4 separate regions of the Homo sapiens genome follow, and all the other regions are linked to region 3. Evidence: fine-mapped expression QTL. A gene starts in region 3. Each other region holds a variant in brackets. All regions are shown on one strand. Distances are from middle to middle.

What was found. PIP is the estimated chance that this variant, and not a neighbour inherited with it, causes the effect.
Region 1: its variant is the best candidate, but not a certain one, in a credible set for the expression of BMPR1B in pancreas (GTEx, PIP 0.61).
Region 2: its variant is the best candidate, but not a certain one, in a credible set for the expression of BMPR1B in gastroesophageal junction (GTEx, PIP 0.59).
Region 4: its variant is the best candidate, but not a certain one, in a credible set for the expression of BMPR1B in sun-exposed skin (GTEx, PIP 0.65).

Annotation. Positions count from the first base shown.
Region 1 is chr4:95,016,104-95,021,439 of GRCh38, forward strand. All of the region lies in intron 3 of BMPR1B (bone morphogenetic protein receptor type 1B), which reads left to right. Among named protein-coding and RNA genes, the nearest start is that of BMPR1B, 260 kb to the left of the region's middle. The variant A/G (reference allele first, on the strand shown) is at 2,653.
Region 2 is chr4:94,854,090-94,859,425 of GRCh38, forward strand. All of the region lies in intron 1 of BMPR1B (bone morphogenetic protein receptor type 1B), which reads left to right. Among named protein-coding and RNA genes, the nearest start is that of BMPR1B, 99 kb to the left of the region's middle. The variant T/G (reference allele first, on the strand shown) is at 2,993.
Region 3 is chr4:94,755,033-94,760,368 of GRCh38, forward strand. It overlaps BMPR1B (bone morphogenetic protein receptor type 1B), which reads left to right and starts at 2,923. Exons shown (of 13, transcript NM_001203.3): 1 at 2,923-3,036. It overlaps BMPR1B-DT (BMPR1B divergent transcript), which reads right to left and starts at 2,501. Exons shown (of 3, transcript NR_121610.1): 1 at 2,362-2,501.
Region 4 is chr4:94,807,529-94,812,864 of GRCh38, forward strand. The region is part of intron 1 of BMPR1B (bone morphogenetic protein receptor type 1B); the gene reads left to right. Among named protein-coding and RNA genes, the nearest start is that of BMPR1B, 52 kb to the left of the region's middle. The variant T/G (reference allele first, on the strand shown) is at 2,644.

The sequences.
Region 1 (5,336 bases), 260 kb after region 3:
GATAATTGATAGTGTTTGTGATGGTGATACAATTTGAACTTTCAAGTAAAAACTGCAATTTTGAAAAACTTTGCAACTGCCACAGTGACCTTGAGAGCGTCTAAATATTTAAAATCCTTTTTGATGACATTGGTCCAGATATTACAAGTGTGATTTTTTTTTTGTTGTTACTTCATTAGGAAATGTGTTACCATTTGAAAGTTCTGCGTAACTCAGTGGGCTGATATTTTTCAAATGATCAGTGATCAACACATGATGTTACAAAATTATGCATGGATGAGAGATTCATTCAAAGTAGAAGATAATAGAATAGATTGTAATGTCATCATACAGATGTTTTATTCGTATGATTCAAATCTATGTTGCAACTAAACTTTTGAGAAACTACCACTTCTTGAATTTGGGAGTAGTATTAAGGAAGAATATTCATAATATCTAAAAAGGATGTTAAAATATTGCAGGTATTTTGAATTATTTTGCAATTATTTATAGATTGTAGAGATAAGAGAAAAGAATGGCAAGAGAAGGAGAAAGATGGAAGGCTTTAACAAAGTATTTGCGAAGTGTTTTCCACATCTACTCCTGACTTTTGCGGGGTCCAGGGCAAGAGTACAAATGGAGAACTGCAGACCATATGTCAAGATATTTAAAAGTTATAAATTTAGCTAACATGCAATTAAATAAAAATATATTTGTCCCCTTTCCCTGACAAGTATACCATCTTACCCACAATATATGTAACTATATAAAGCAACAGTTTATACCAAGTAACTGTGGGTAGTGCAACTTCAGTGTAATTGTCATTTTTCATTAAGGACTATGATTTATTATAGGGAGACACAGCAGCATTGGTCAGACAAGACAACAGTAGGGAGAAAAGATTTATAGTTATTTTATTTGCTCCTTCAGTTTCTTTTTCCATAGGGAAAACATTCACTTTGTTTTTCCTTCTATGAGTGGGGGTCTTTCCTCCCCACGAAGACTCAGCTGTTTATCCACTGTGTACTCTTTCCTTAACCCCACTCTTCAGATTTCTCAGAAGATGCCCAAGTGAGGAATTTGCAAGGTTTCTTTTCACTCTTCAGCAAGCCATGCAAGCAGCTCTCTTTCCTGTCAATATTGTTCTTTTCAGTTTCTCAAACGAACTGAAGTTGGAAGGCCAGGTTCCAGTGTATAATTCCTGTATTTGTGTGAATTCTGTGCTGAACTACTGCTGCCTTGGGAAAGGTTATCTGACTTTGATCCCATAGCCACTACCCTGTTCTCTCCACCTGTCTTCTTACTGCATCACGAGGGACTTTTTTGCATGTATGTGGCCTCTGCATGTTCATATCTAAAAGCAATGTTAGTGTGGGCCATATGGGGCCTGTGTTAGAATCACCATGTGTGTTTCTTAAACATTCAGTTCTTGGGCTTCACCCCAGTGTGCCACAAAGTTAGATGTTAAGAGTGTTGTCAGTCACAGGTAATGTTTGAGGTGTTTCCTAGACAGATGAATCTTGGCACTTAGCATCAGTATTTCAATATTTCATCAGTATTTCAGTGTTGCCCTAAAAACTTTCCTTTAAGCCTGTTATCTGGTTTAATTCTCTCAGCAACTCTGAGATTGTTATTCCCATTTTTCAATGTGTATACTGTACTGCCACTGGGAAATTTGGGTCTTGAAATGGCCTTGGTATATATCTTTTTCTAATGCAAAGAGTCTACATTTTATTCTTCAGGATTTGTAGATAGTGTTGTTAGAGAACACCTGCTCTATAGTTGTGGAAACTCTAGAGAGATAAGATGCTTTTATGTCAACATCAAAAAGAAAATACTGTTGTGAAATGGGTAAACAAATTCGGAAGGTTTCTGTGGGCAAAATTCCTCTCTAAAGTTTGAGGAAAATACTGTCTTTTCATGCTTGATCCTAGCCAAAAGGCTGAGAAGCGATAATACTATCTTTTTAATAAAGTCAGTTCACATTAAGTAAAGCAAATTTTAATGTATAGGTTAAACTGAAATATTTAGTGATGAAATATAAAATAATTATTAAAGAATGCATGCTAATCATTTTATGTACATGCAACAGTCTTATAAAATTCACATTTTAATTTGCTGATAATTTGCATTTTACAATACTGTTCTTAAAGGAAGTAATTTTAGGTATCCAGAATAATGTTGCTGTCAACAGAGAAGTTTTGGATTGAGTTGGGAATTGTATGGAAATACCTATATTGTTTTTGGAAAGTTTGTTTTAAGAATGAATAAATTGAAAGCTGATTAATAATATTTCCAGAAAACAAATAATGAAGCCATTTACTCTACTTGCTTTTTAGAAAGTTAATATTGCTCTAGCCCATAAAGTGCTATTTAGTAGCTAGGGGGATGTTAGTTACCCTTAACCACACAGTACTCTAGTTGTTTCCCTGAGTTAATATTAACTACCACAGATCTGTAATTTATAATGTGAAAGCATTTTAGTCACTGGATTACCTGGATTTTTAAGTATTTTGCATCCCTGTGAAATACTGAGTGTCCACTTGTTTATGGAATTATATGAGCTTTTTGTGCAGTTATTTTTGGAATTATTATTTCACACAACTGAAATGTCTTCCTAATGATAAATAACTACTATTTTTCAAAACTGACAAACAAACCAGCCTAGGATTC[A/G]ATTTTGGGTTGCATAAACAAATCAACCTAGTGTGGTTAAGAAATGGAACCTGAACTGGAAGAGTTAATCTTCAAGTTCAGCTTGAGCTGTGTTTACTGATCCTTTTCTGCTGCTTCTTGCTAATTGGCACCTCGGACTTCATACTAATTAATGGGATAGCAAGGGGCAGGTGGCGCCAATCTATTTTGATAATCCTTGTCAGCAATGTCTGTGTAATCTTTTTGTTTAATTATAATGAATGTGCAATTGGGGTGCATGAACTTTCAACAGTTTTTTTTTCACTGGAAGTTCACTGGTCAAGGGAAGTTTTGCAACTGTCGAATACCGCTTCATATTGCATACAAAGCCACTTGTTTTACCACTGTAGTTGTAGTAATTCACATGAATGGAAGTCGCTAATGGAAATAACCTATGCTTCTTTAAAACTAGACAAATATAACTTTATCCAGAGAACTGAAAAACATTTGCCTCCTTAATTGTGCCCAGCGTCCTCATTTTTGGAGTGAGGGTAACAAATTTTGTTTAAATAGGGGCATTTAATTTTAAGAGTACTTAATGGATAAAAATATTAGAATAATGTTTTCTCTGGAAGGAAGAGGCTAGGCAGGAAGTCAAAATAAATGGAACTGCTTTACTTAAGAATTTGCAAGGTTTAGCTGTGAAATGACTAGATAAATGATATTGTTGGAAAGTAAAGTTACCTACTAGAGAATGCATATTTTGTTCCTTTCCATTATAGAGAAACTGTTATGTTTTTAAATATAAAGGTGGGTTTAGGTAAAATCAGTTCACTGTATTAGTAGTTTTGAAGTTTGGGGACTGGTCTTAAAATTGTGATCCATGCAAGGCATTATTTATTTGTGGAAAGTGAGAGAAAGGGAGGGAGGAAGAAGTCGAAAAACACCTCCTTGGCTGTTAATACCTTGAAACTTAGTGGAAAGGAAATAACACTCAATTTATAAGGACTCCAGTGTAAACAAACAGGAGCTATGATAGGAAATAGCACTAGGGCCAATTTATAAGACTTGGTCCATGTTCATTTTTCAGATAAAACTTCCTGTACTTACTCCTAGCTGTTTAAGTTAGACCAAAATCAAAATAAATCGTCCTCAAGTGGTGAAAGGAAATATTTTAATTGGGGTATATTTTTGGAAAATCAGAAATAGTTACTGCCAATATTGGTACCTTGATAAAATTTAAAATTATTATTGAAGAGAATAGTGTAAATTTATACAAGCTTGGGTGTTATGCACCTTATAGTTTATTATATAATAATAAAGTTTGATTATATTTGTACCTTGCCAGAGAATCTTGATTTATCTTAATTTAAATTTGCAATTAAAATGAAAACCCATTGCCTTAAATCTGCAGTTCTCAACCCAGAGACAATTTTGTCTCCCAGGGGACATTTGGCAATGTCTGGAGACATTTTTTATTTTTACTGCTAGGTAGGGATGCCACCAGGATCTAATGAGTAGAAGTCAAGGATGCTGCTAAACATCTTACACTACAAGGACAGTCTCCTACAAAAAAGAATTATCAACTGGGCGCAGTGGCTTACGCCTGTAATCCCAGCACTTTGGGAGGCCGAGGCGGGCAGATCACGAGGTCAAAAGATCGAGACTATCCTGGCCAACATGGTGAAAGCCGGTCTCTACTAAAAATACAAAAAATTAGCTGGGCGTGGTGGTACATGCCTGTAGTCCCAAGTACTCAGGAGGCTGAGGCAGGAGAATTGCTTGAACCCGGGAGGCAGAGGTTGCAGTGAGCCGAGATTGCGCCACTGCGCTCCAGACTGGTGACAGAACAAGACTCCATCTCAAAAAAAAAAAAAAAAAAGAGTTATCTAGCTCAAAATGTTAATGTTAATATTGCTGGGATTGAGAAACTTGCCCTACGTAAATGGTGCCGTCTACTGGTGAAACACCAATTTATTTTTATTTTGTTATTAGTTTTGAGACACGTTATTGTCTGTTGCCTAGGCTAGAGTACAGTGGCACGATCGTTACTCACTGCAGCCTCCAACTCCAGCCTTGAACTGCAGCCTGGGCTCAGGCAATGCTCCTGCCTCAGCCTCCTGAGTAGCTAGGATTACAGGCACATACCATCATAACCATCTAATGTTTTTAATTTTATTTTTGTAGAGATGAGGTCTTGCTTTGTTGCCCAGGCTGATCTCAAACTCCTGGCCTCAAGTGATCCTCCTGCCTTGCCTCCCAAAGTGCTGAGATTACAGGCATAAGCCACCGTGTCTGGCTATCTTATTTATGATCACTGGATTGCAAAGATGCTTGAGACTTTATGAAGAAAATACGCTGAAAGAAATAGTCATATATGGGCATGCAAGTATGGAGTTGTATGGGATTAAGTAACAAATAGCGTATTCCTAATTTTTAATTTTTTCCCTAGGTCTAAAATATAATGGGAAATAGCAGTTACAAATTCTTTGTAGCTTTTTCTTTCAATTCCTACCATATTTATATTCAACATGGAAGAAAGTACAGTACTTACTTGGCCTAGAAAGAATGCAGTGCAAATGCAGTGATTGTCTTATTGCATACTTTTGTGTTTATGAATTCTTGCATCATTTACATGGTGTGGAGTAGCTATAAGTTAGAGATTTTAAAGAAGGTTTTTAACCTAGCATATTATTCAGGCTTTGGTTCATCTGATTTAATAAAAT
Region 2 (5,336 bases), 99 kb after region 3:
CTATCTTCATATATTTGAGGACTACTGTGAAGCTCTCTATTCCTTCTAGCAAGCCCCAAGATGCCTCATCTATTGAATAAGGCCTTTCGTATCCTGAAATGATAAAAAATGGACATGATGCTCTACTGTAATTGTACCCTAATATAAAGGAGAGATTATATGAAAATAATTTTATAAAAACATTTAAGAAGTGCATTTTGAAAAATAATGAATTTGAATATGGAAATATGTGGACATGACTATAATAAGAATAATGAAGTAGATAGATTCTTGTACTTATATGTAGCACCACTATGAACAGCATATTTACAAATGAAGGCTGAAAAAGTTTTGTTGTATCAGTGACTCAGAAACAACAAGGGGTATTGAGATTGTGGATGCAAGTTTTTGATAACGGTGACAAGGCTCTGAACAACACAAATCTCTTGATTTATGTAGTTGTTGCCTTCTTGGAATTCAGTATGTATTTAAAATCTTTGATAAATACTATGCATTTATATGTAAAATGCAGTAAGGTTCTAGACTGAGATAATTAAACATATTTTTCACTCTCATGAGTCCAGCCATTCATTCAAGAGTCTTGAGGGACCCATGAAAACTCTTCGTTTGGGACAGTCTCCTGTATTGCAGTAAACCTAGCAAGCCTATTCTTGGCCCATGAAAAGAAAGACATGCTCCCTAGTCATTGTGCAAGCCAAAAATGCGATAACTTATTTTCCAAAAAGCTACTCTTTATGTGATCCCCTTGAGAACCTCTGCTCTAGGGTTGTAAGCTTTTAAACTTGAGGGCTATTTTCTAAAGCATCAGTATTTTTCTTTTTTCCTTCTTTGTAGTCTATTCAATTATCATCTCTTATACTGAAATATAATCAATAAGGACAAAGGATTCACATTCTTTTATTCCAGAATATGCCTAACATATATTGGATGGCACCAACCATAATAATCTAGGTGCAAAAAAATTGTAAACAAATTATCAGTTCTAACAAACCACTGTGGATGATTATTAAAAAGATCCTTTAGTCTTCTTTAAAGGATCCTTCTTTAAAGGAATTCTGGTTCATATTGAGATTATTTTATTTTATAATATGTGGGGGGATAAGAACACCAAACATTTATAGAGCACTTATCTAACAGTTATTATGTTACTTGCCTTCTCTCTCATTTTAAGTCTCATAACCATCTGATGAAGCAAGCATTATTAATATCTTCATTTGATAGAAAAGAAATCAGAGCCATAGTGAGGTTAATTATCTTGCTCAAGGTCACACAGCTATTAAATAGTAGAGCCTGGACTTAAACTCAGGTTTCTCGGACTCTACAGCATTTGCTCTAAATTGCACTGGTGTGCCGATGACTCTTTTCAGATGTTTTTCATCACTATGAAACTATGTCTAACATAGACCTTCAGAAAAGCTCTTCCCATCTCTTTTAAAATAACATAACATGTACGTAACAAAAATACGGGATAATTAAAACTCTGAAGACAGAGGATAGTGCTTATTTTTTGTTAATCACCTTCAACTTCAACTAAAGGGAAAGCCTGTTTCTAAGTCTTCTGGTTCCAGTTACCACTGAAGAAAAGGAATGTGCATTGCTGCCACTGGTGATATTTGTGACTTCTAGATAAACAGTGCCTTCTAGTCTCCTGTGTATTATTCTTTTCAGCATTAATAAATTTATTTAAAATAAAGTTATTTGAGTTAATCAAATTCTTGTGCTTGGAAGTGAAATAATCAGATTTTAACTTACATTTAAATTTTAGAGAGGTCTGAATTGATTATTTAAATCTCAGTAATTTATTGAAACATCACTGTGTGCCCCATAAATGTGTACAGTTAGTATTTGTCAAATGAAAATAAAATAAAACTTCGAATAACTTTGCAGTTGTTAACACAGCCTCTTCCAGTTTTCTGCTAAAAGACCAGTGAAGGCCCAGGGGGAATACAACAACAAAAAAGACTGACAATTGCTAGAAATTTTGATGCATTTCTTTCACCTATAAGGAGCTGGCCTGGGGAAAAAAACAGATTGTCTCATGAAAAAGAAAACCCAGCTATCCAAAGTAAGAAATGTAGAGGTAGTTTTTGTTGTTGTTGTTTTTTTGATAAGATCTGCTGCTTGCTCAGAGACCCATGATCTTTTAACAGCTAGAAAACTGGGCAGCCCTCCATCTGCTGCAGGGGTGCCGTTTTTCTGAGGATGCTGTAGCATTATCATCACTGATGCCGCCTCCTGACCTCCTGTTCCATATGTCTCTATTCTCTTCTTATGTCTTTCTCCAGCCAGCTAGCAGCGTAAGTCATAGAAAACAGCAAGAACCTGGGAGAGGGGGAGCAGCTGACTACTGCATCCTGAAAGGAGGGGGTTTCCTCCTGTAAAGGGCTCAAGGTGGGGACAGAGAACTCAATGGTAGGCATTTTAGTTTTCAAGTGCTCCTTTTGCTGATTAACAATATGTAACAAGAAGGTCCTGCTGCAGTCCAGAAGACCAGCTTTAAATGAATGTATCACAGTCACTGAGAACTGGGCTTCTAACTCTTCATATCTTTCTACATTCTTGCTATAGCATTGAAAAGGGATGTCTATAATCAGCTAAGGGCATAATGGGCAGGCCAAACTGTTTTGTGGTAGATGCCGTCATCATTACAGAAAGGCAGTAGAAAGGTGGCAAACAACTTGGGACCTAATTTAGAAAACTATGCCAGGTGAGGGCCTATCATCCTGAAGATGCAAGAGGAAAGCACATTTTTTGAAATATTTGTAATGACTAGAACACTTAGAAAACAGTTTAGCATAACAGAAGGTAGAAGATATGATATTTATGAAACTTCAGCAAAGAGCTCTAAGGAGAACAGACTGCTTCTCTAAAGGTTTGGGAAGATTGCAAGGAACACTAAAACAGGGTTGGACACAAATCTGCAGAGGGGGCAAGAAAGAATTCATGATTTTAAAAACTGAAGTAAAGAGTATGCTTCAGGAACTCTTTCAGA[T/G]TTCAAGAGAAGGATCAAGAAATGAAAAGAATGAGATAAAAAAGTATGGAGGAGAGAGAACTAAAATCCAGTCTGAGAAAGATAAATGCAAATGTCTGATAAAATATGAAAAAAAGGCCTTACTCTTATGCAAATAAATGCAAATTAAAATAAATTAACAAATATTTAAGAAAATGTGCCAAATTAACAAATATTTAAGCAAATGACAACATACTTTTGATACAAGTTCAGTGAAAAGGTGCTATGTGAAATATGTAGCCGTTTAGGCAGTTTTGTACCATTTTCTGTAGAAGGTTAGCACTTTATCTTCAATGAATAGTTACACACATATAGTAAGATCTATATAAAATGACAACAGAATTTGGAAAAAATCTAGTGGACTATAAGATATTTAGATGTAATAATTTATGGCCTTAAAATCATGGTTTAAAAAATTTTAGTTTACAAAATTTTATGTAAGAATATCCTTCCGATATAATGTACTTTATACATTTCCCAAGCTAGAAGCTAACAGATGAACAAGGAGAATAAATATATTAAGTAGGAAATAAATTTGGGAAGCTGCTTGCTACCCAGATTTATTATGACTTACTTCCCAGGTCATTTATTATTACTTGAAAAAGCATAATAAGTGTTAGCTCATTATAGGCTCTGAGATGTCCTCAAAAAGACATCTGTTAAATTTGCTTAAACCTATTTTAAACAATACAACACTTTTTTTAGTGGAATAGATACTAATATCTCCCAGAATGTTCTTTAAATATCAGTTTAGAAAACAATGTGTTAATGACAAAAATATATTTTTGAAAAACATATGTTTATGTAAAATGGAAGTAAATACACCAGATTATTTACTTTTTATTTTTATTTTTTTATTTTTTTGAGACGGAGTCTCGCTCTGTCGCCCAGGCTGGAGTGCAGTGGCGCAATCTTGGCTCACTGCAAGCTCTGCCTGCAGGGTTCACGCCATTCTCCTGCCTCAGTCTCCCGAGTAGCTGGGACTACAGGTGCCCACCACCACGCCTGGCTAATTTTTTTTTTTGTATTTTTAGTAGAGACAGGGTTTCACCATGTTAGCCAGGATGGTCTCGATCTCCTGACCTCGTGATCTGCCCTCTTCGGCCTCCCAAAATGCTGGGATTACAGGCGTGAGCCACCGTGCCTGGCCAATACACCAAATAATTTAAAATGATCACTGAATAGAATTGTTTTATGCTTGTATGTAACTCCTGAATTTTCCTCAACAAGAATTTCAATAGAAATGCAATGCTTTTGTTATAAAAATATATAGCAAGTAAAAAATATAGAAAATAAATTTGGCTATAAAACTTAGTCATTAGAAGACATAAAATGGAACCATCCTTCTGATGGAATTCATGCCATAATTTTTTTCTATTATAGAATTTTGGATTAGGCATTTATTTTAAGATGTGGCAAGAGATATTTTGACCAAATTTTTAGTGATATACATGAGTTAGTTTCTCCTGAACTGTAAATTAGTTCAAATAGACCAAAAAATGGAAAGAGTTATCTTGAGTCTAAGAAGAGTGAAAATAGTTGTTTTCTGTTCATTTTGTTTTAATCAAAGTTTGAATACAACTCTTGTTATTTGTATTAACTCCAATCAAATGAAAAATGGGGCAGGTAGGCTAGTTGCTGTTGATGGTTGAAGGGTATGGGTGTGTGCATGTGTATGTGTGTTTAAACTTTGTAACTTCTACTTCATTTTTAATACATCAAAGTGAAAGACACTGTAATCCTATCTCCTCAGTCTTTCACCACCCCTTCCAAATCCACTTAAATTCTTCTAATTATTCACAGATGAGATTAAGTCCAAAGGAATTTTTGTTTACATTGTTGTTCTATTTTCTCTTTTTCTTTAGAGATGACTACCTTTGTTTTTGCAATTATGTTAATAGATAAGCATGTCAACATAATTTATAATTGCCTTAATTATTTTATTAATGCAAGACTTTTACACTATCAGAGGCAGATCTGGAAGTGATTTAGATGCTTGCCTTTTTTGAAGAATTTGAACTGTTGTCCCATCAGACTGTCTAGAGCCAACTAAATTGGGAGATGAGAGAACTGAGCTTCAAGAGGCCACTCTTTATGTTAGAATGGGTAGTATTCACTGTAAGTTGTAAAGTGAAGTTGAAAGAAATGCACGTTCTAGTTAATAATTTTTTAAAAAAAGAATTACTTTTTAACAGGATTTTAAAAAAACTTCCGTCTTTTAAATTTTAAAACGCTTTCCATCTTTTCAATTATCCAAGTTAATTTTTCATGACTTAAACTGAAGATTACAGCACGCAATACCCTTCCCACGAGGGAGGCTTTTAAT
Region 3 (5,336 bases):
GTTCTCTAAACACGCCATGCTTTTTCATAGGGTTCTCCTTGCTTAGGATGTTTATTCTCTTTCTAGCCCCGCTTTGATCTCTAAAGATCCTTCAGGACCCTTATGAAATGTGACTACTCTAGGAAGGTTTTCCTGAGATTTCTAGGCAGAATAGTTCATTTTTCTATGCTCCAAAAATTGTGTGTTCATGCATTAATGCACTTCTCATAGAAAGTTCTATATATTTTTTAAGTATCTTGTTTCTTCTGTATTATGAGTTTCAAGAAGGAATGGACAGAGTTTGCCTCTCAAATACCAGGACTTGGTTTGTCATAGGCACTCAAAAATGTTGATTTTTGAATAGCTTCTTTCCAAGGCTCCCCATTCCTGCTTACAGAAATGTTACCATCTAAGGCCCACCTCAAACACAGTTTCCCCTGTACCCCATTTTCTCCCACCTGGAGTGCTTTTTTTTTTTCATCCCAAAGACCTACAGGAATTTCCTTTGTTCTCTGATTTGGAATTTTAAAAAATATATTTAAACAAGGTATTTAAAAAAATCTGTCTCCTTGTCTGCAAGTTGATTGAAGTGGAATCTGTGTCTTCTCTATCCAGAGATGCCTGTATTCCCTGAATCAGTATCTTATACCCAGCAGATTCTCTGAAGGATATTTGCTGAATGGAGGAGTTAAGCCAAGGAAAGATAATCCTTAGTGCAACTTCTGAAAAGATACAGGTGACAATACCACTAGCTCCAAAACATTCTGCATAATGTCTGCTTTATTTCACTGCAGTTTATGAGTGCTCCAATTCTAAGGGAGATTATACAGCTGTCAAATACAAATTATCAGTAATTCACACAGTAGAAAGGATAGATTCAATCAGGTTTCTTTCCTCTTTAAACTTGCTTAATGTTGATGAGATATTGACAATGATCAACACATTACATTTTTAGTTCTATGGATTTCCAGTAAATTCTCTAAGCTTTTCTATGTATACAATCATAAGCTCTGTAATGAATTATAATTTGGTATCTTATTTTCAATATTTAAAACTCATATTTCTAAACTCACATTTCATTTTCGATAATTTATTATTTTTAGTTAATTACATAATAGCTCATAATTCCTTGCTTTGTCTTTTATTTTAATGGTGTAGAAGTTATAATTTCCGTGTCTTCAAGCCCCCTTCTCCCCACAAAACACTTAGTTAATATGAGGATGGAGATGATGAAAAATTGGATTGAGGACCAGGTAGAAGGTAATTTAGGTAGTCATATGCTTTATTGTTTTGAAAGAAAGGAGGTGGAAAAGGGAAGGGGTGGGAGTGAGGGTATCAGAGAAGAATTGGGATGAGAGTAAAATGAATGGATTTTATCTTGGAATTCTTGGGGCAAGAGGATGAGTACTGGTACTGGGGACTGGAACAGTGGTTGAATAAGGAAGGTCAGATGATGTCAATGACTAATTTCACTTGTTTTGGAAATTTTCTTTCAGATACCTTTCTTCTTCCAGTTTGGCATTAGAAATCACAATGCAGATATATCATGGGGCAAAAAGACCTTTGTGGAGACTCTAACATTGCTTTTATAGAAAAAACATGACCACATCTTCATACACTCAATAAACACTGGGGGCACCGCCTGCTTTAAGTGCAAGCTGCATAAAATAAATTGATACACAAATGAATTTTTTATTGATAAGTGCAAAAAGATTACATTTAATGTTTAAAAAAGATTTAATAGAAACAATTTAAGAAAAGGGAGTAGTTGAAAGAAAATAGTAGGCTAAGAATTGAATATAGAAATAGATATGAAGAAAATTGGAAGAAAGTTACTTCAGGGTGAAAAACTGTTAAAAAAAAAAATGACTTAGATCACACACTTGGTGGTGACCAGAGACTGTTTGTCAATATTTTGGAGGAAAAAAATTTTACAGAAGGAGAAAATAAGTAATGCTGGAGAGTGGGAAGCTGAAAGGTATTGAAAGGAAAAGAGTATTTGGAAGTCACGAGATATCTCCCTGGGAAATAGAGTTGGCAAAATGGCTGATTTTAAAGAGGTTAACTATTCTCCCCAAATTTCTGACTGTGAACTAGCTTACTTTATATTTACCCACTTAGAAAGTGTTTCAACACTTAAAGACTTAGCAAGGAGACCACAAAGTATAAGACGTTACATACTTTTCCAAAAGAAACACGACTAACTGTAAACTGTCATCAAATACAAATGGAATGGGTTTTCTCTTTTGGGTTTTATTTTTTTATTTTTAATTTTTTGGTGGTTGTTTTCGTTTAACGGTTTCAAAAAATATGTAGAAGGGAAATATTTCATTTCCCTTGGACGCTCAACTGTATATATTTCAAGATTCTTAAAACCCCCACCTCAAACTGCAGGCTTAATTTTAATGTGTTCATTTTTTACAAGGTGTGTCAACGTTTTATCAATTTCTGAAAAGTGTCTATGGCCCCGAAAAGTTGAAATCCACGACATTATATCATCTCTGCGAGCCCTTTCCAGCTCTCAAGGTACAATAATTCCACGAATCTTTGTTCTTCAAACCAGGAGGTTTTCTGGAAACCTTCTTAAACAACCAGGACAGGACCCATGAGGGAAATCTTGGGGATGCTCTGAGCAGCGGACGGGGCTTGGGAAGCGCACCCCTGTACCCGGGCTGCCTCCGGCCCGCACCCCGCCGCTCCCCAAGTCGGCTCCGCACTCCGCACACAGGCGGCGGCGCTGGGGCCGCTCCAAGTGCGTTGAGAAGTGTAATCCCTCCGCTAAGTACTTGGCTCTCAGTCTCCAATCACTAGTGGGAGCTGGAGAGGGCAAGTGAAAAAAAAAAATTCCAGAGGCAGCCGAGGAGCGAGAGGGAAAAAAAAAAAAAAAAAAAAAAAAAGTCCCGCGGTGGCGGCGGCGGCGGCGGCGGAGCGGCCGCGGCGGCCAGAAGTTGACGGCGCAGCCGGGCGCGGGGCGCGGAGTCGGCGGGGCCTCGCGGGACGCCGGGCAGTGCGGAGACCGCGGCGCTGAGGACGCGGGAGCCGGGAGCGCAGCCGCGGGTAAGGCGCGCGCGGCGGGGCCCCGTCCCCTGCGGGTGGCCGAGTTCCCGAGCGCGCGGGAGGCGGCCGAGCCGGCGAGAGCCGGGCAGAGCGAGGGGCGGCGCGGGACGGGTAGCGGCTGGGTGCGGAGCTGGGCGGCGGTCGCCCTAGGCAGGACGGAGCGCGCGAGGGAGAGGGCGAGAGCGAGGGCGGGCTGCGCGGCCGTGGGGCGGTGGCGGCGGCGGGGAGGGGGTCAGGCGGTGGCCGCCTCGGCTTTGTGCGCGGGCGGCTCTGCCGGGACCCCGAGGCCTCGTGCCTGCGCAGGCGAGGAGTCGGGGCAGCGGCGGCGGCGGGCGGGACACGTGCTTCGGGCTGTAGGGACGCCCCAAGGCAGGGAGTCGGACCTGCGAGCGGAGGGATGGGGCGGGAGGGCGAGCTGAGGGCAGTCGCGGAATCCGGGAAATGGGAGGGAGCCCGGCGGGGCGGGGGCCCAGGGCCAGCCCAGGCGGGACCCGCAGGCACCCACCTGCCCCGGACGCCTCCCGAGACCCAGCCTTGCCGTGGGGGAAAGTGCGCAGCGGGCTGGTCCCGGCGCCTTGGACTGGGCTCCGTCTCTGCTTCAGTTGCCTGTCTCTTCTCCTCTCTCTCCTGCTTCTCTCTCTCTATGCCTCTCTCTCAAGTTCTGGGTCTTTCATTCTCTCCCTTTTCTTCCTTTCTCCCTTCCTCTCCTTATTGCTATCCTTTGCCTCTCCCCCCGGTCTCTCTTTCCTTCCGTGCGTCTGTCTCCCTCTCCCCACCGCCTGCTCTGGCTCTCCCAGTGTGTCCCTCCTCTGTCCCTTCATCCTCTTCCCTCTGTCACTTTCGCACAATCTTTTGGTCTCTCTCTCTCTCTCAAGAGGCTTTCGCTCCCGGTCTTCCTGGCTCCCCTGTCTCTTGCTCTCTGCGCCCATCTCTCTGCTCGTCCCTCTTTCTGTCCAGGCTCCGTGTTTCCGCCTGTGTTTGGCGGTGTTGGAGAAGAGCCTCTGGAAGTTGTCCGCTGTGGTGCGGGTCTTACTTCTTTAGAGCTGCACCCCTCCAGCTGGGTCCTGCTGTTTGTTCTGAATGGAAACGCTGCAGTTCCCTTGAGTTATTAGAAACTGCTCTTTTCTTAGCCACCTTTCCAGCAAGGTGAGGTCAGTGACTACGAGCGGCCACAAAGGTGCCAGTGAAAGACAACGGAGGAAGAGAGCCGTTTCACTACCTCCAACAGATAAAGAAAATGTGTTAATACCAAACTTACCTGCAGCAAAGCAGAGCCACCTGAGAAAAGGTTCTTGAGTTCTGCAAAGAAACATAAAAGGCTCCACTGGAAATGAGAGGGTTCAGCTAAAAAGTGTTTGCAAATAATTTGAAAAAGCACTTAATGGAAATCTCTTGCTGTGCTAAATTGATGCCAACGAATCTCTGTTTTCTTACATATATTTTTAGGATTCCAGTGACAACTCTCCTAATTATTGTTTTGGGCAAGTTATGGGAAATGTCCTGTGTCAACTGGGATGTTAGTATTTAAGAAAATATTCAGTCTTTGTACTTTATACCCCTTTACACTCTAGTGATCAAGAAGAATTATTTCTAGCTGTAAAGAAAATAGTAAAGGATTCGTCAGTAATTTTAAAACATGAGACATGCCGGTGATCAATAATGTTTTTGGAAAACTTTCATTATAAGGATGTTTTGAAGGATGTTACATCTTAGTGAAATATGTAAGTTATTACACACTTAGATCATTGTGCAATGCAAAAAAGTTTGTGTTATAAGCAGATCATAGTAGTGATGTCTTTTTATGGGAAACATAGCTGGGAAATTAATTGCTCTGATTTTCACTGTTTTCTTTAGTCATGCATAATGTACCTTTGTGTTTAGCAAAATATGGCCTAGAGCTACAAAACTTGATACAGTGTGTTATTTGTCCAATCTGAATTACCATTTAGAAAACCACCTTTTCCTTTTAGTTACATGATATAAGTTGATATGATCTCATTACTCATGTGCTAGGGGCCGCTGATGAATTTTAATGGCACTGATTTGTGTTTTTAAATCAAAATGTTAGTTTTTGGTGAGTTAAAATCTTGATTTATGTCATGTTAGTGAATCATCACTATTTATAGGGGCTTTGCCACCTTGTCTGCCAGGTGCTGCCCAGCATTTAGTCTAGGCTAGGTTGTCTGAAATTCCCTGTTAGATTATTGTCCCTGAGTGACGTGCTGCCACGGCCTGCTTATGTATGTTTCTCTAAATGTTCCAGTCGTTAAATAATATTTATTAAAAGGAAATTGACTTAA
Region 4 (5,336 bases), 52 kb after region 3:
AAATATGGTTATAGCAAATCACTTGAATGTTTCAGCCACACCCGAAACATTGTAACTGGAGAGAATATAAGTTTTTTAAACTGTGGAGAATAGAAAGTTAATTCAGTCTAGGTCCAGCAATATGTTTAATTGAGCTTTGTTTTATATTGCTTCAGCATCTATTTACTTTTTATTGAGACAGAGTCTCATTCTGTCGCCCAGGCTGGAGTGCAGTGGCACAATGTTGGCTCACTGCAACCTCTTCCTCCCGGGTTCAAGAGATTTTTGTGCCTCAGCCTCCCAAGTAGCTGGGATTACAGGCGCCTGCCACCATGCCTGGCCAATTTTTGTTCTTTTAGTAGAGGCGAGGTTTTTCCATGTTGGCCAGGCTGGTGGTCTCAGACTCCTAGCCTCAAGTGATCCACCTGCCTGGACCTCACAAAGTTCTGGGATTACAGGGGTGAGCCACCATGCTGGCCTGCTTCAGCATTTAAAATAATAATGAAAACTTTTTTTTTCCAGTGCAACATTGTACTTAAAATATTTATAAATTGTAAATCTCTATTTTGCTATTATGTGTACTTGTTACTTTGTAGCCTTTTAAAGCTTAAATGGATACCAGATTTGTTCTGAATGCTATTTTAAATGTTTTTGCATTTTCTTTCATATACTTAATACTTTTTTCTAATTAACAGATGTTAGATACTCAATATACAAAATGTGGGATTTATGGAAAATTAGACAGAAGAAAAATTACCCATGGCCCCATTACCTAAAGAAAACAACTGGTAGTTTTTAGGTATTTTAGTCTATACCTTTTTCTCTATACATATTTTAGATTGGTCATAATTATTATATTACTATTTGATAATATAGCAACATTACATAATTTTAATTTTAATGGCTACTGAATGTTAGATCCTGCTTAATACAGTAAATTACTCAGCCACTCCCACACTGTGAGATGTTTAATTTGGTTGCAGTTTTTTATTTGAAGTAATACTGAAATGAGCAATTTTGGTCATACAGCTTTTTGTATGGTTATGGTTTTGCTTTAGGCTAGTTGCCGGAAGTGAATTTTAATGGTTCAAAGAAGTATCTACATTATGAGATTCCAGATATGCACTTTCAAAACTAGAATCTGAAAGGATTATGCTTATTTTTGTCAACACTAGCTTGGTATAAGTTTCTGTTTTATTTCGCCATTGGCCTTTCTTACATTTCCAAAAGTTTTTGTTAATATACTAATAATTAAAAAAGTTTTACAGGCTGGGCGCAGTGGCTCACAGCTGTAATCCCAGCACTTTGGGAGGCCAAGGCGGGCGGATCACAAAGTCAGGAGTTTGAGACCAGCTCGGCCAACATGGTGAAACTCCATCTCTACTAAAAATACAAAAATTAGCCGGGTGTGGTGGGGGTTGCCTGTAGTTCCAGCTACTTGGGAGGCTGAGGCAGGAGAATTGCTTGTACCTGGGAGCTGGAGGTTGCAATGAGCCAAGATTGCACCACTGCACTCCAGCCTGGGCGATAGAGCAAGACTCTGTATCAAGAAAAAGATAATAATAATTGTACAGTTCTTTGATTATTATTACGGTTGGACCTTTATAAATGTGTTTGGTCACTGACATGTTTGTGGTCACTTTTATGGTATTTTAATCAAAATTTTAGAGTCACACTGGGCTGTAGGCACATGAGGAGGGCATGATAGATATTTGTTGCTTGAGTATTTGAATGTAGGTAGAACATGTAAAATTGTTATCATTGAACAGTTTCTTGCTTCATCCCCTTTATACTACTATAATTTTAAAATGCTTTTAATCATCAAACTATGCTGTACTTAGAATACTCCGTTATTTCTTACATTTAAACAAAATTGTTTAGCCACAATAAGATGAACACAAGGTCAGTTAGAAACAAGGTTACTATTACTCTGCGAAATGTGAAGCCAATTCCTTTTTCCATGTATAAGCTTCAGATTATATCACTTTCAGATATCTGAGGATTATGCCAACTGTTGATCAGAGAGTACACACAACAAATACTCACTACAGCTGCTTTCTTCTTTAGTACTAAATATTCTCATTAAGTGCTTTTTTCCTATTCACTTATCTCCCTCTTTCTTTTGTGTACATTGTACTGCTCCACCCCACCAAAGTGTAGAAAAGAGAAACAATCCTTTTTCTAAAACACATTTGTTTCACTCTTCAGAAACAATGGACAAGAATTTGAAGGATTCAGCATACCAGTTAGCTTTCTACAGCTTGCTCCCGTAGGGAACAAATTTTTGCACAAAGCAAAACATCTATCTGGCCTCTGCCAGTATCCCAAGTTTTGAGGCAAAAGTAGTAGAGTCCAGCATTTACCCTGAGGAGAGGCCTTAGATGGCAGTTGTGATTTCACTCTAGAATCTGAATTCTTAGAAAAAAGAAAGTATACAGTTCAGTGTCACCTCTTAGTTGTTGCACAGTTGTCTAAAACTATAGTGCAGTAGATGAATTTACAGTTTTTTTGACCCTAAATGGGTTGGCAATTGACAAAGATCCAAATGGCACAGTCCTTTTTGTTTCATATTTACTCTCAAGGAGCAAGGAGAGAGAATTATGTAGGCTGTTGCTATCTATCCACTCTCAAGAAATACAGCTTTTTGAGCATATTCCCTTAGCA[T/G]TCCACATATTGGCATTATTTGCTTTCAAGCCCATCGAAGTATTTTTACTGTTTTTTGTTAGAGACGTGCTACAATTGGTTTAACATTTATTGGCTATATCCTGTCTTTGGTGAGTGCCATATTAATCTACTCAAAATACTAAGCAATATGTGGAAATTTGAAAACAACTTACAACACTATAAATATGTATGTAACCACATATTACCAATGGTTGAATAGATCATTTTTGTTTCTATTTCTTGGGGGAGTATATAATGATTTTCTGGAATTAAAAAATCGGTGCAAGGGGAGAAAGTGTAAATTTGATGTGGGAATGGAAACTTACAGTAACTTGTGTTGTTGCCCAGAGGACAAGAATACAGCAAGATTGGGATGTGAGCTTACATGAAACATTTCATCACACAGACAAAGCAAATGCAATTTGATTTATATTTTATGTGGCAGGTAGAGCCAAGTTAAATGAAAAAGTATGGTCTCAAAACATCCAAAATACACTTCATATTTAAGTCTTTTCTGCTATAAAGACAAACTAAATGGTGTTTCTTGAAGCCAGAGAAGAAATAAGCCAAGTATAAAATCCTGCTGTGGTGCATTGTGTCCTTTTCACCCTTTGGTGTTGAGTGGCTACCTCAGTGTCAGGCACATATTAGAGAGTTAGTTAATACTGATTAGATTAGTTTGGCATGATTCTTTAAAGAAGGGATCAAGCGTCTTCATCAGTCATGTGTGCGTGTGTGCATGTGTATGTGTGTAGTGCACAACACAGTGTTAGATTGGGTAGAAAATGTACTGGTTATAAGTTACGACGTTTATTTGATTCCCTGTGAAATGGAACTGAGAAAAACATAGCACAATAAAGAATGATGAATTAGTGTTCTCATATTAATTTTCTGATTCAGTGACTATATTTGGTCATGATAACAAGAATATCATGTTGCATAGCAGGTGTATCTCAAAATGTGTAGTGCTCAATTAACCGTTAGGAGAAATAGAAGTTTATTTCTCATTGACATAAAGTCCAGAACAGGTTTTCTGACCAATAGCTGGCTGGCTGATTAGCAATGCAAGGACCCAGGCTAATTTCATTTTATGGTTCCACCATCTTTCATGTATGGCTTCCATTGTACTTATGTGCATGAAACCTACTGAAGGCAAAGAAAGAGCAGGGAATTTGCACTTTGGAGGCTCTCATGGGCCAGGCCTGGAGGAGTTGCATGTATTTTTGCCCACATCTCATTAGGTAGAGCTGAGGCATAGGTCATCACCTAACTGCAAAAGACTAAGAATGTAGTCCTGCTGTTTGCTCGAATAGCTGTAATCAGCTGCAATTCAGTCTTCTTAAATCACTATTTCTTTGCATTTGTGAATAAAATGACTTCAATATAATTATTATACTCTGATCTAGGATGATTATTAAGAGAATTGATGGCCCTTTAAAAAATCAGGCTTATACAAATGCTTGAGTACAAAATTCCGGAGTTTAAGTTCTAAGTTTTAAAGAACTGCTAAGCTTCGATACCTTGGTCATGACAACTTTCTCAAATGCCAGGGAGGGAACCTTTGAATCCAAATATTTTCTCTGTATGAAAGGCCCACCCACAATAACATTCATTTGCAGAAGGAAATGATTTATTGCTCCCTGTGAGTGAGTGCCAAAAAAAGTTTTCTCCTGAAATATCGTGCCAGTATTTCCATATAAACATAATTTTAGCATATTCTGCGATGTGGAAATTTATTTTTCATAGAATTTATAGGTTTTGAGATGTAAAGGGTCCCCATAAAGTCGTTTTGCAGCTTGAAAATGTGAAAATATTTAACTTTTATAGTTCAAAAATTTTATGTTGTAGAAATGATAGAAACAATATCTAGAGAATGTTTGAAGACTTTTTCTTCCAGGTTATGTGGTCTGCTTGCCAGAGGACATTGTTTTATATTCTTATTCATTAAACAAGCACTTATTGAGCATTAACTATGTGCTATGTGATTAATTCACTTAGTACCTAGTCCTCCAAAATTTAAAGTCAGTTAGAGGAGAAGCTTCATACTGTTATAGAAGAAGCAGGGAAGGAGCAACAGCCTAGTATGTTTTAAGAGGCTTTGTGAAGTTTTAAGAGAAAATATAACATATCCACTTGGCCTTGAAAAAATCAATGGGTATTTGCCTGGAATGGAAAGGGGTTAGAGTATTCAAGACAAAGAACAGCATGAGTAGAGCAGTGAAAGCTTTGAAAGCTCATGACTTGGTTTGGATGCTGGAATTCCAAAAAGGTAGACATTTTGTGATTTATGGAGGAATTATGGGATGTGCACCTGTCCCAGTTGATCAGACTAGCGTGACAGACCATACTGAGACCCTTTTGCTTTTTTCTGTAGGCACTGGGAAGCTATGCAGGGTTTTATATCTCATTATATCAATGAGATAATCAGATCTCTAATTTTAGAAAGATAACCCTGTTAGCCCTGCAAATGATGTGTAAATGTTGAAAAGACTAGAGACGGAGGAGAGAGGGTGAGGGCAGTCCCTGGGAGGGGGAGCACGGAATGGACAGGAGAGAGAGTTCACAGGTGGAATTGCTAGAATTGGGGGGTTAGTTGGTTTTTGAAAGTGATTTTTTTGGTTTGTCATTAGAAATTGAAAGGATAACAGCGTATACAATTGAGTAGCATATTTGACCAAAACTTTAATAAATTT